2 linked regions of the Homo sapiens genome follow. The protein of the gene in region 1 interacts with the protein of each later gene in a biochemical or structural test. Each region holds a gene or a part of one and is shown on either strand. Other genes may lie near its edges. The genes, in order: H2BC4 and HPF1.

Evidence for each region.
Region 2: the proteins of H2BC4 (region 1) and HPF1 form a complex in vitro, tested with the Homo sapiens proteins (one study listed by BioGRID).

Annotation. Positions count from the first base shown.
Region 1 is NC_000006.12:26,122,745-26,128,102, reverse strand, and holds H2BC4 (histone H2B type 1-C/E/F/G/I), read left to right. Parts: upstream 1-4,176; 5' UTR 4,177-4,198; coding exon 4,199-4,579; 3' UTR 4,580-4,636; downstream 4,637-5,358. Other genes in the region: H2AC6 (histone H2A type 1-C), read right to left, coding at 3,478-3,870. UniProt on the Homo sapiens protein: Core component of nucleosome. Nucleosomes wrap and compact DNA into chromatin, limiting DNA accessibility to the cellular machineries which require DNA as a template.
Region 2 is NC_000004.12:169,747,792-169,755,081, reverse strand, and holds part of HPF1 (histone PARylation factor 1), read left to right. Parts: intron 1-1,246; coding exon 1,247-1,406; intron 1,407-4,356; coding exon 4,357-4,546; intron 4,547-6,239; coding exon 6,240-6,338; intron 6,339-7,290. UniProt on the Homo sapiens protein: Cofactor for serine ADP-ribosylation that confers serine specificity on PARP1 and PARP2 and plays a key role in DNA damage response.

The sequences.
Region 1 (5,358 bases):
TCTTGCCTCAGCCTCCCGAGTAGCTGGGACTACAGGCGTGCACTAGCATGCCCAGCTAATTTTTGTATTTTTTAGTAGAGATGGGGTTGGTTTTTTTTTGAGACGGAGTTTCACTTTGTCGCCCAGGCTGGAGTGCAGTGGCACGATCTTGGCTCACTACAACCTCCACCTCCCGGGGTTCAAGTGATTCTTCTGCCTCAGTCTCCTGAGTAGCTGGGACTACAGGCGCCTACAGGTGAACACCGCCACACCTGACTAATTTGTGTAGTTTTATTAGAGATGGGGTTTCGCCATGTTGGCCAGGCTGGTCTCAAACTCCTGACCTCAGGTGATCTACCCACCTCAGCCTCCCCAAGTGCTGGGATTACAGATGTGAGACACCAGATCAGCCTCAGAAGACATTTTCTATTGGAAAGAGAAAACACTATTAGCAACCTATTAGTCTAATATTTAATACTTAATGTCTTCCTTAGTAATAAACCAACTCTCTACAACAAAGTGCTTCCTGGCTGCCTAAGTCATTGATTCATTCAGTTCAACATTTTCTCAATGCCCAACAGCCAAGTGTCTCTTGTATGCCAAGTTCTATGCTGATTATCAGTATTTGAATAAGAGGGGGTCTACATCTTAAGTACTGCTTAAGATGAAAGCCTCTAGGTTAACAAACTTAACACAATGTATCATTCACTACTAAATAGACCGAATACAAAATCTTGTTATTGGAGCCCAGAGAGAAGAATTGAAATTCAAGTTTTCTCTCTCTCCTTTTCTCACTCACCACAATAAGTCAGTTGCACCAAGTCTTGTAGCTCTTTACTGAGCCATGTTTTCACGTGTCCCTTTGTTTTATTTGCCACACCCTAAATAAAAATTGTACTGGCTTTTTTTCCCTGGGTTTACAGTATTAATACATTGTCAAGATTTACCTCTTCGTGTAGATTCCCTGGGGAAAATTACCTTTCCTCCTTCCCTTAAATTCTTCAGAGGTTAGAAAGCCATTAGTAACATTCTGGTATGTGGACAAAGTTTACCCATTATGTATGGATGTTTTACTCTTTCTATTTTTCTGACAATAATCTCTTAAGGAGGTGTGGTTATAGAATAGTCAGCTGTTATAAGTACTGTTTTCCTGGCCTTACAACTTAAGTTCTTTAAGCTGTTTCTTAGTTTGCTCATCTCAAAATTCGGAATAAGGATAAAACCTATCTCTTAGATTGTTGGATTAAATGAATTAACATACTGGAAGCTCATGAAATGTGCCTGGCACACAGTAGTGCCTAATAAACCATCTCTCTTATTCAGCCTGTTTTCTGATTTCAGAATCTACACTTGCTGAGCCAGGTTCTTTTCATTTCAAGGTGAGCAAAAGCATACAAGGAAGAGATGGAGGTAGGAAGAGATTAAGCCCTAGGCCAAGGTCACACACCGATTGGGAGCTGGAATCAAAGGCAATTTGGTCAGTGAATAAAAAGGATTCCAAGGCCCATAAGGCAATTCTAACCTTAGGATCGAAATTCTCGGACATACAGGAAATGCTGGGGGGGGAAAATCCGGTCTTCTCAGCCCAAGAGCCATGTGAAACCAGACCTTCAAATCTGATGATTCTCAGCCCAGCTGCCCATTAGAATCGTTGTAATTTAAAAATACCCTCGGAAAATTCTAATATGTGGCTATCAAAGGTGATCATTTGCTTTTATGCCACTTTGTTTTCACCCAAATGGGACATCCAACCCTTTTCCTTTGAGAGTAGTTGTAGGGAAAGGAGGGGGTGGAGGGAGGGAAGAGCGGAAAAGGCTGGATCCGCCCTGAGCCGGTGTCAGTATCTGGGAAGTGGGAGGCGCGTCAGCAGTAAACAGCTTCTGCTAGGATTATTATCTCCTGCCACACACTCGGATTTGAAGGCTCCAAACGAAACAATGCAAAACGCTTCAGTGGAGTTCCAGAAGCGTTAGACTAAACGACTGGGTCTGTTTGGCCAGTCTGAGCAGCTGGGCGCAGATGCATAGGCAAGACTTAGCCCGCCTAGACTTTTCTGCCCACTTAATTCCGATCAAAGCAGAAACCGGCCGGGCGCGGTGGCTCACGCCTGTAATCCCAGCACTTTGGTAGGCAGAGGCTGGCGGATCACCTGAGGTCAGGAGTTCGAGACCAGCCCGGCTAACCTGGTGAAACTCCGTTTCTACTGGTGGCGGGCGCTTGTAATCCCATCTACTAGGGAGGCTGAGGCCGGAGAGTCGTCTGAACCCGGGAGGCGGAGTTTGTATGCAGTGAGCCGAGATCGCGCCACTGCATTCCAGCTTGGGCAACAGGAGCAAAACTCCGTTTCAAAAAAGCAAGCAAACAAACAAAAAAATGCAGAAACCGAGATCCGGAAGAAAACCTCGGCGAGATTCACAGAATCCAGGAAAATAGGTCTCTAGAAATTTGTCCATGGTCCCAGATCTCCATTTCTTGTGGGTGGGGCAGCTGTTACCAGATCCCTAGAAGCAAAGGTTTTTTTGGGGGACCGTGTCTCACTGTTGCCCAGGCTGGAGGGCAGTGGCACGATCTCGGCTTACTACAACCTCCGCCTCCCAGGCTCAAGCGACTCTCCTGCGTCAGCTTCAAGAGTAGCTGGGATTACAAGGTATGTGCCACCACGCCCAACTTATTTTTTTATTTATTATTTTTATTTAGTAGAGAGGTGTTTCACCATGTTGGCCAGGTTAGTGTCGAAGTCGTGACCTCAGGTGATCAGCCCCCTCGGCCTCCCAAAGTGGTAGGATTAGAGGGGTGAGCAGAAAGCAAAGGTTTTTGAGTGGCCACAGGCCCCACTCTATTTCCTTTTCTGCCTGTAATGGCAACCTAGACGCTTGAGCTTCTTAAAATACAAGAGTAAGTTGCATGTCAGGCACCGTTCTACATTAGGGACATTAGTCTGTTTTACAGACACCTTTCAACTCCCTGGTTAACTTTTAGGTAATATACTCTGCACTTTAGCAGGAATGGGACCTATAACTCTCACAGAATTAGGAAAGTGAGGCTGCCTACAGCCTAAATTGAGAAAAAAATAGACGGGGGACTAGTCGGAGGACCAAACAAGGTTACCAACACGTTAGAGTTTTGCCTTCAATTTACATTTTTAAAGTAATCACAACGAAGTGTTTAGATCACGAGGCATCCCTGCATGTAAACTGTTAGGCACTAACTATGGTCGATCTTACAAAGCATTAACTAGAATATTTCTTTAGAGTATGATAGTACGTAACTGACCTACTATTACATACAAACAGACCAACCTTTAGTAACAGCGCTCCCCAAAAACCGAAAAGCAGTAATACGCTTTGCTCAAGGTTGGCATAAAATTAACTTACCTTAGTGCCTTTTTTCCTTCTACCTACAAGCAGTGAGGTTAGCTCTTCCTTTGAAACGGTAGGGGGGCTCTGAAAAGAGCCTTTGGGTTTGATAGCGTTTCCGGGAGCTCAGATACCTGTCAAATCACTTGCCCTTGGCCTTGTGGTGACTCTCGGTCTTCTTAGGCAGAAGCACGGCCTGGATGTTAGGAAGGACGCCGCCCTGAGCAATGGTCACCCGGCCTAGCAGTTTGTTGAGCTCCTCGTCGTTGCGGATGGCCAGCTGCAAGTGGCGCGGGATGATGCGAGTCTTCTTGTTGTCGCGAGCCGCGTTGCCGGCCAGCTCCAGGATCTCGGCGGTCAGGTACTCTAACACCGCCGCCAGGTACACCGGCGCGCCTGCCCCAACCCGCTCTGCGTAGTTGCCTTTACGGAGCAGGCGGTGCACTCGGCCCACCGGGAACTGGAGACCAGCGCGAGAAGAGCGGGATTTCGCTTTGGCGCGAGCTTTGCCTCCTTGCTTACCACGTCCAGACATTGCAATCAGACAAAAATCACCAAAACCAGCGGCCTAAGCTCACGAGAAAACAAACAAAATCAAGAAATATGTAAAACATGGCCGCTTTTATAGGTAGTTCCTGGGGAGTAAATCCGACTTTTTGATTGGTCGGTAGCAAATGCTAGTCAGATAGCCAATAGAAAAGCTGTACTTTCATACCTCATTTGCATAGCTCTGCCCACGGATGACAACTGTGCAGTTTGTCTTCCAATTAACTAAGAGGTACTCTCCATCCCTCATTAGCATAAAAGCCCTATAAGTAGCAGAAATCCGCTCTTTACTTTCGACACATTTCTGGTGTTTTAAGATGCCTGAGCCAGCCAAGTCTGCTCCCGCCCCGAAGAAGGGCTCCAAGAAGGCAGTGACCAAAGCGCAGAAGAAAGATGGCAAGAAGCGCAAGCGCAGCCGCAAGGAGAGTTACTCTGTGTACGTGTACAAGGTGCTGAAACAGGTCCATCCCGACACTGGCATCTCTTCCAAGGCCATGGGCATCATGAATTCTTTCGTTAACGACATATTTGAGCGCATCGCGGGCGAGGCTTCCCGCCTGGCGCATTACAACAAGCGCTCGACCATCACCTCCAGGGAGATCCAGACGGCCGTGCGCCTGCTGCTTCCCGGAGAGCTGGCCAAGCACGCCGTGTCGGAGGGCACCAAGGCCGTCACCAAGTACACCAGCTCCAAGTAAACATTCCAAGTAAGCGTCTTAACACCTAACCCCAAAGGCTCTTTTAAGAGCCACCCAGATACCCACTAAAAGAGCTGTGGCCAGACGCCAAATTTTATTTGGCGGCGGAGGGGTATTAGAATATAGGAACTGGAGAGGGGTGGGGACAAGTGTTGCAGCTTAGAGAGGGACAAAGGGTCCTGAACCCGAAAGAAGCCAGCCATTAAAAATGGCTTTGGGGTCAATTCGTTGTGCTTAAATTTAAAATGGAGACAAGCGGCCATTTTGCTAACTCGGCGTTCCCGGAAGAAACCGCAGGCTCGCTTAGGTTTCAGACCCAGCTGTCTGTCCCTGTCTACGTCGCCAGGATCAACGGTTGCCGTAATGTCATAATTTCGCCACCAGCTTCTAGCCAATAGGCTGTCCTGTCATTTTAAATATTAACCAATCGAGGGAAAGCTGTTTTGAGACTCTGATTTACATAGCGGACCGGAGTGGGAACCTGGGCAGTAACTGCCTAAGGAAGGACTCCCCCTCTGTTTTCGTGGCGCACACCTTCGTAGTATACTGAAGGGTGTGTCTCCTGGGTTTCCAACTGCCCCGGTAATAGTCTTTTAACCTAATATGCGTCAGTTTTGATAACAACACTAAGGCAGTACAGAACTAAAGATGTAAGCACTGCGCCAGATGTTGCTTCATACATCTTATTCTATTCAACTGGTTTATTCAAGATTCAAATCAAATCAAATTTTGCTTGAATCCCAGTGCTCAGTCAGCCATAAATGGTGTGTTGCCTGATT
Region 2 (7,290 bases), on another chromosome or scaffold:
ATAAATATGAGGGGGCGGGGGGAGGGATAGCATTAGGAGATATACCTAATAATGACGAGTTAATGGGTGCAGTACACCAACATGGCACATGTATACATATGTAACAAACCTGCACATTGTGCACATGTACCCTAAAACTTAAAGTATAATAATAATAAAATAAAAAAATATATAAATATGAGAAACATCTAGCTCAGAATTTCTCAACTTGAGCACTGTTGACATTTGGGGCCAGTAGTCTTTGTTGAGGATGCCTATCCTGGGCATTATAGGATGTTGAGCATACCTGGCCTCTGCCCCACTAGCACCGTTTCTTCCAATTGGTGACAACTAAATAGGTCTCCAAATGTCCCCTGGGGGGCAAAATCACCACCGGTTGAGAACCACTGCTCTAGGTAGGAAGAATAAAAAGGAAAGAACTTAATCCAAAAAGAAAGAATCTAGGTTCATAGAAAAACAGATTGCTGCTTAGAAAACTAAACATACGTAACTTCCAATTAAGCATATTGTCTTTACAGAAATTTATCAAATATCTAGTAGGCATTATAAAACCTAGTATACTTATATAATGAACCTGTATTGTGGTGGTCCTAGAGATGAGTATTATAACTTCATCCTGGCATTAAAAGGCCTTTTCTGAAATAATTGGATTTTTGGCCCAGAGTTTAGTGCTATTCTGCTAACTTTATTAGGAACTATAGATGTTTAACATTGTCACTAACCTTCCCTCTTTATCTGGAAAATCAAAAGGGAGGTATCTGTTTTTAAGGCTGGGTAATGATTGTAGTGAATAGCTCAGACACAACTCTAGAAGTTGCTAAAGAAACAGCTTTTTAACTGATGAATTGCTTATATCCAGTTACTTCTATTTGTTTCTCATTTGATCAATGAATCTGTTTAAAAGACTCACACCTTTAACCAAAAGAGGGCAAAATCTGCCCTTTCTTTATTCCTCTCTTCCTGCTCTTTATTATTTCTTTTTTTTACCTTTTTGTTTTTTGTGGTTTCCATTATCTTACAAAAATATATTTAAAGACTTGCTGTGTGGATTCCTCTTAACCACCATATAAACTACTCTTTTTTCCTGTGCCCAAATGAATTCCCAGATTTTACTCAAAGACCATTTAGAGAGTTTTAAGGAAAACACATGTATTTCATAGAGTTGGGTGAACAAGAGTGATAGATACTGTTATGCAAGGAGAGTTACTGAAATTTGGAGAACTAAAGTTTGTGTGCCAATTTTCAGTGTGAAAAAACAACTGATGTGAAGAAAAGTAAATTCTGTGAAGCTGATGTCTCCAGTGACCTTCGAAAAGAAGTAGAAAATCATTATAAGCTTTCTTTACCTGAAGATTTCTATCACTTCTGGAAGTTCTGTGAAGAACTTGATCCTGAAAAGCCATCTGGTGAGTTGCTCCAGAATCATTCTTGTATTAATGGAAAGAGTAATGTAATAGGAAACCAGCTGGGTGTGGTGGCTCACACTCTGTAATCCCAGCTGAGGCAGGAGGATTGCCTGAGGCCAGGAGTTTGAGACCAACCTGGTCAACATAGTGAGACCTCCACAAAAAAATTAAAAACAAAAACAAAAAACTAGACGTGGTTGCATGTGCCTATAGTCCTAGCTACTTAGGAGACTGAGATGGGAGGATCCCTCCTTGAGCTCAGTGGTTTGAGGTTGCAGTGAGCTCTGATCACTCCAGCCTCAGTGACAGAGCAAGACCCCGTCTCTAAAACATAGAATAATTGGCCAGGCATGGTGGCTTATGCCTGTAATCCCAGCACTTTGGGAGGCTGAGGCAGGCAGATCACTTGAGGTCAGGAATTCGAGACCCGTCTGGGCAACACAGTGAAACCCTGTCTCTACTAAAAATACAAAATTTAGCTGGGCATGGTGGTGCACACCTGTAGTCCCAGCTACTCGGGAAGCTGAGGCACGATCATTGCTTGAACCTGGGAAGCAGAGGCTGCAGTGAGTCGAGATTGTGCCAGTGCACTCCAGCCTGGGTGACAGAGCAAGACCCTGTCTCAGAAAAAAAAAAAAAAAAAAAAACCTAACCAAGGATATAAACTGTTCATAGAAAACAAATATTTTCCAAGATGTTTCTTCTAGTAAGAGAAAATATAGAAAGAAATATAGATTAATGCTATAGTAATGCCACTGTCACCTAGTTTATTGGCAAAGGTAATTTCATCACATTCTGGGGGAATGTGAAGGAAAGCAAGCTCTTTCATGTGTTGCAGGAGTTATAACAGTTCTGCTTCCAAGAACTTGTCTTATGGATTACATAAACTAAGAATTATGTTTGAGGATATTTACTTAAAGAAAAAATGGGAAATGGCTTAAATGCCTACCAATACCACATCTATTCAGTAGATCTTCATTGTTTTAAAAGAATGAAGCAGATTTTTAGGAAATAATAAACTATCATGCCTGAAATATGTTAAGTGAAAAAGAAGAGTGTATAGAGTATGCTACCATTAGTATTTTTTTAAAAATAGCATGGGGGAGAGAGAGTACACACATATCCCTGTATACTTTTCTGTGTGCTTATTTTGTCTCTGAAAGGATAAAGAAACTGTTAATGGGCTGTGTTCATTACTTTGCACTATACTATTTAAATTTTTTAACTAGTAGGCACTGTCATACACTATTGATGGAAATGTGTATTGATACATATTCTGAATTTTGCCAGTAGATCAGAACAGAACTGTGTAGCTGTTTCTTTAAAAATAGTCATGCCTTTAGCTGGGCGTGGTGGCGGGTGCCTGTAATCTCAGCTACTTGGGAGGCTGAGGCAGAGAATTGCTTGAACCCAGGAGGCGGAGGTTGCAGTGAGCCAAGATCACACCACTGCACTCCAGTCTGGGTGACAGAGCGAGACTCCATCTCAAAAAAAAAAAAAAAAAAAAGTCATGCCTGTATACAAACATTTATTAGCAAAGATGTTCACTGAAACATTTTAGAACAGAAAAAAGAAATAGTAAATTTCCCTCAGTAAGAGAATAGATGGTTACCTCTTTATAATGCAGTATTATGCCCTATTAAAAAATCATGTCAAATAACATTGAATAGCATGGAAAAATATTCAGAACATTTAAATGGGACAGGATGGAGGACAAAAGCAGATTACAATACAAAACAACCCTTCTCAGTTTGTTACATGTTTGTATCTGTTCATGGGGGTGGAGAGTATGGAAATTTGTTACTGTATAATAGACTATTAACTGTTATCTTCGGCTAATGAGATGGATGGTTTTAGTTTTCTTCATGCTTTAAAAATTAGTGTATGCTCTCCTAAGCTTCAGTTAAGCTGAACTATTTTTCCTGTCAAGTTATCTCCATGCTTCTATTCATGTTATTACCTCTTCCAGGAATTTTTTTGTTTTCTTCATCCTTCCCTCCTTATAAAACTGGGTCCTGTCTGGGGTGCTTCCCTCCATCTTAGAAGTAAGGACCCATTTGAAGTTATGCATTGTACACTTGCACAGACTTCATGTCTTTGTGGTTTATGAACACTCCCTGTCTGTGATCCGTGAATAGAGAAGGAAGATGGAGTCATCCAGGGTTAGGGTTGGCCAAATAGATTGTCAAAGAGTCAGGGGAATCTGGTGTGATTAGCTGAGGTAGAGGAAAGGGGATAGAAATGTTTTTTACCTTTTTTTTTTTTTTTTTTTTGAGACAGAGCCTCACCCTGTCACCCAGGCTGGAGTGCAATGGCGCAATCTCGTTTCACTGCAACCTCCACCTCCAGGGTTCAAGTGATTCTTGTTCCTCAGCCTCTCCAATAGCTGGGATTACAGGCGTGAGCCACCACACCCGGCTAATTTTTGTATTTTTAGTAGAGACGGGGTTTTGCCATGTTGGCCAGGCTTGTCTCCTCCTGACCTCAGGTGATCAGCCCGCCTCAGCCTGCCAAAGTGCTGGGATTACAGGTGTGAGCGACCACACCTGGCCTGTTTTTTACTACTCTTAATCCACACATTTTTGCTATCTTTCTCTCCCTTAACCTGTGTGTACTACAAGTATTTGAGGCTAACTGCAGTGTGGTAATGGGCCTATAGGAATACAAACCAGTCTTGCTTTGGCCAAAATAAGAAACAACAGGAATGTCTGAAATGTTAGGCTAATTCAGTGGTAAATTTAAGAGGAAATCCTAAATGTAAATACCACTTTTCCTGTTACTCTGACTTCTTTTCCATTGAATGTTTATAACTGACATCTTCACACATAACTCAAGATTTTTTTAGTTTAGAAACTTTTTAAAGACAATTGCTTAGAAATAGTTTACTAAATAAAAGCATTATTTCCTACCTGTCTCCAGAAAGTATTGTCTAAATTTATTTTCTTTATAGATTCACTTTCTGCAAGCCTTGGACTTCAATTAGTTGGTCCTTATGATATCCTTGCTGGAAAACATAAAACGAAGAAAAAATCAACAGGCCTGAATTTTAACCTTCACTGGAGGTTTTACTATGATCCTCCTGAGTTCCAGACCATTATTATTGGAGATAATAAAACTCAGTACCACATGGGGTATTTCAGGTAAAGGATCTTTTCTTCGCCTCTAAAATACAGCTGCTGTCCTGCTAATGAGGATAAATAGTTATTCACTAGCCTCACCCAAGGTGAAAGGCATATTTTCCCCTGTTGGTGGATATATGAGCCATCTGTTGTTCTTGCTGTTACCGTTTTAACCTTCCCTAGGATGGGTAAACTCTTTAGGTTTAATCTCACTTGTTTTTCCTTTCCTTGTAAACTTTTTTTCCCTTTTGGGTTCAGAAGAGCTCTTTTGGCCCAAGAAAGATAATTTAGAGCAGCTGTGCTTAATAAGCCGTGTGCCAGAGTGGCAACTGGTAGTTAAGAGTGGTCTCTGGAGTCACACTGGTCCTCTTGTTTATTATCTGTGTGACCCTGTATCATTACTGACTGTGACTTTCTGTGACTCGGTTTCCTGTCTTGTAACAATAGGGATAACTGTACATACCTGATAGGAATATTATGAGAATTAAATGAATGCATGCAGAATACTTAGAAATAGAGAAACTCCAGGAGGAAAATACTTGTCCGCTTGTACCAGTAGAAATGCTATCCTTTAAAGTGAAGATTAAATGTAAGGTAATAGAAGGAACGTGCCCAGGAAGAAGTGTTGTAGTACAGCAGAATGCACATGTGGCTAGGAATTGAATTATACTGTAGCCAAGGTCCTAACTTACTAGGTCCTTGGCTGAGTAATTTAACCTCTCGGTATTTGTTTCCTCAATTTTAAAATAAAAGGTTTGGTTATATACGTGAATAGGATCCTTTCATCTCTAATGTTTTACAATCCTTTTTCTTGTTTTTCCTTTTTTTTTTTTTTTGTATTTGAGTATAAAAGCAACTAGGTCCTAAGAATCTTAGTTTTAGGTTCCATTATATAAGATTTATCATAGATATTCCTAAGAAACTTGGAGCTTAAAACTGGCAAATTTGTTTGAATTTTTTTAAAAATGCCCTTATAAAAAAGGCATCAACCTAGATCCTTGGGAGGGACCTGGCTTTCCTTTTTAAAAGATATTTTACTGAGGAGCTGATGAAAAATGACTAGTGTGGGGTTAGCAGATCGAATAATTTGAAGTAGACCATGCAGTATTCCTACCACTACAATGTAATCATCCTATTTGTGACAGAGAAAGGGAAAAAAGTGTAATAATAGGACGATGTACCTATAATTTGGATAATTTTGAGCTATTGAAATGTCTTTGTAATTTTCACAACTGTTGTCCGTTGTTTGAGGATGCTACCTACTAAACTGAAAACATTCATTCCATATCTACTACATATACACCAGCAACAGTATAAATTTAAGCCTAACTTTGCAATATTTATAATACTTTAGTGATGGAATTTTTTAACATGCAGTATGTAAATGTGCAGATTTTATGTGTGTTGACAAAATTTTTCAGCTTGCAAAATGGGACTGCAATATTACATTTTTCACTTAAACAATTTTTTACATCTACGTTGTTGCTTTCTAAAATGAATGTGAATGCCATCTTTTATGACTGCAACTTGCCTTTTCCATTACAGAAATTTTTGTTTGATGTAATCGATAAATTCTGGTATGATTAAAAAAAAAAAAAGGCCTCCAAAAAGGAAAAAAAATAGGTGTAAATTGTTGTCTGTAGACCTGAAATCCCACTTGCCTGATAATATAAATTATGGGCAGCTAAATTTTTAATGTCTTTTGCTTACACAGGGATTCTCCTGATGAATTTCCTGTATATGTTGGTATAAATGAAGCAAAGAAAAATTGTATAATTGTTCCAAATGGAGATAATGTATTTGCTGCAGTCAAGTAAGAATATTTTAATTTATATTTGTTTACAATGTTTATACTACATTAGTCCATTACAAAGGGGGTTTGAGGGGCTGGGCACAGTGGCTTACACCTGTAATTCCAGCACTTTGGGAGGCCGAGGTGGGCAGATCGCTTAGGTCAGGGGTTCGAGACCAGCCTGGACAACATGGGTATACCCCATCTCTACTAAAAATACAAAAATTAGCTGGAGGCATGGTGGCACACACCTGTAATCCCAGCTACTCAGGAGGCTGAGTCAGGAGAATTGCTTGAACACAGGAGGCGGAGGTTGCAGTGAGCCGAGATTGCGCCACTGCATTGCAGCCTGAGTGACAGAGTGAGACTCTATCTCCAAAAAAAAAAACAAAGCGGATTTGAGACAAGCCCATAATTGTAGATTTCTAGAGATAATTTCCATGACTTTTGCAGGTAGTCTTATCTATACTGTTATTTTGTGCCTCTTCACCAAAAAAATACACCTCTTATGTAACTATTTTACTTAACGAAAATAATACTTGACCTCAGGTGTTCCATGGCAACATCAACAGTTTTGTTAGACATCTGATTTTAAACACCTGTTAAGAGTTTATTTCTTATGTATGGTTCAAACAGAAAGGCTTAATAAAGTAAAAAGAGGTGGTCATTATATCCTTGGAAGGGTTGAGGGAGCAGGCTGAGCTTCCAGGAATGACAGTTGTGTGGCTCACAGTGGATTTTGTCTCTGCCACCATCAGGGAGCTGGGAATTCGAGAACTGCTGCCACAGTGAGTGGCTCTAGGACCACATTATCTTTGGTATAATCTGGGCCAGGTAAATGGATGCCCTACTCTTTGCCTCTCAGCCCCCGTGAAGCTAAGAACCAGGTGCTGGGATCTCAGCTACAGCTGCTGCAGAACCATCAGATGCCTCTACAGCTGTGCTCATTGATGGAGATCGTGGAAGCACAGCC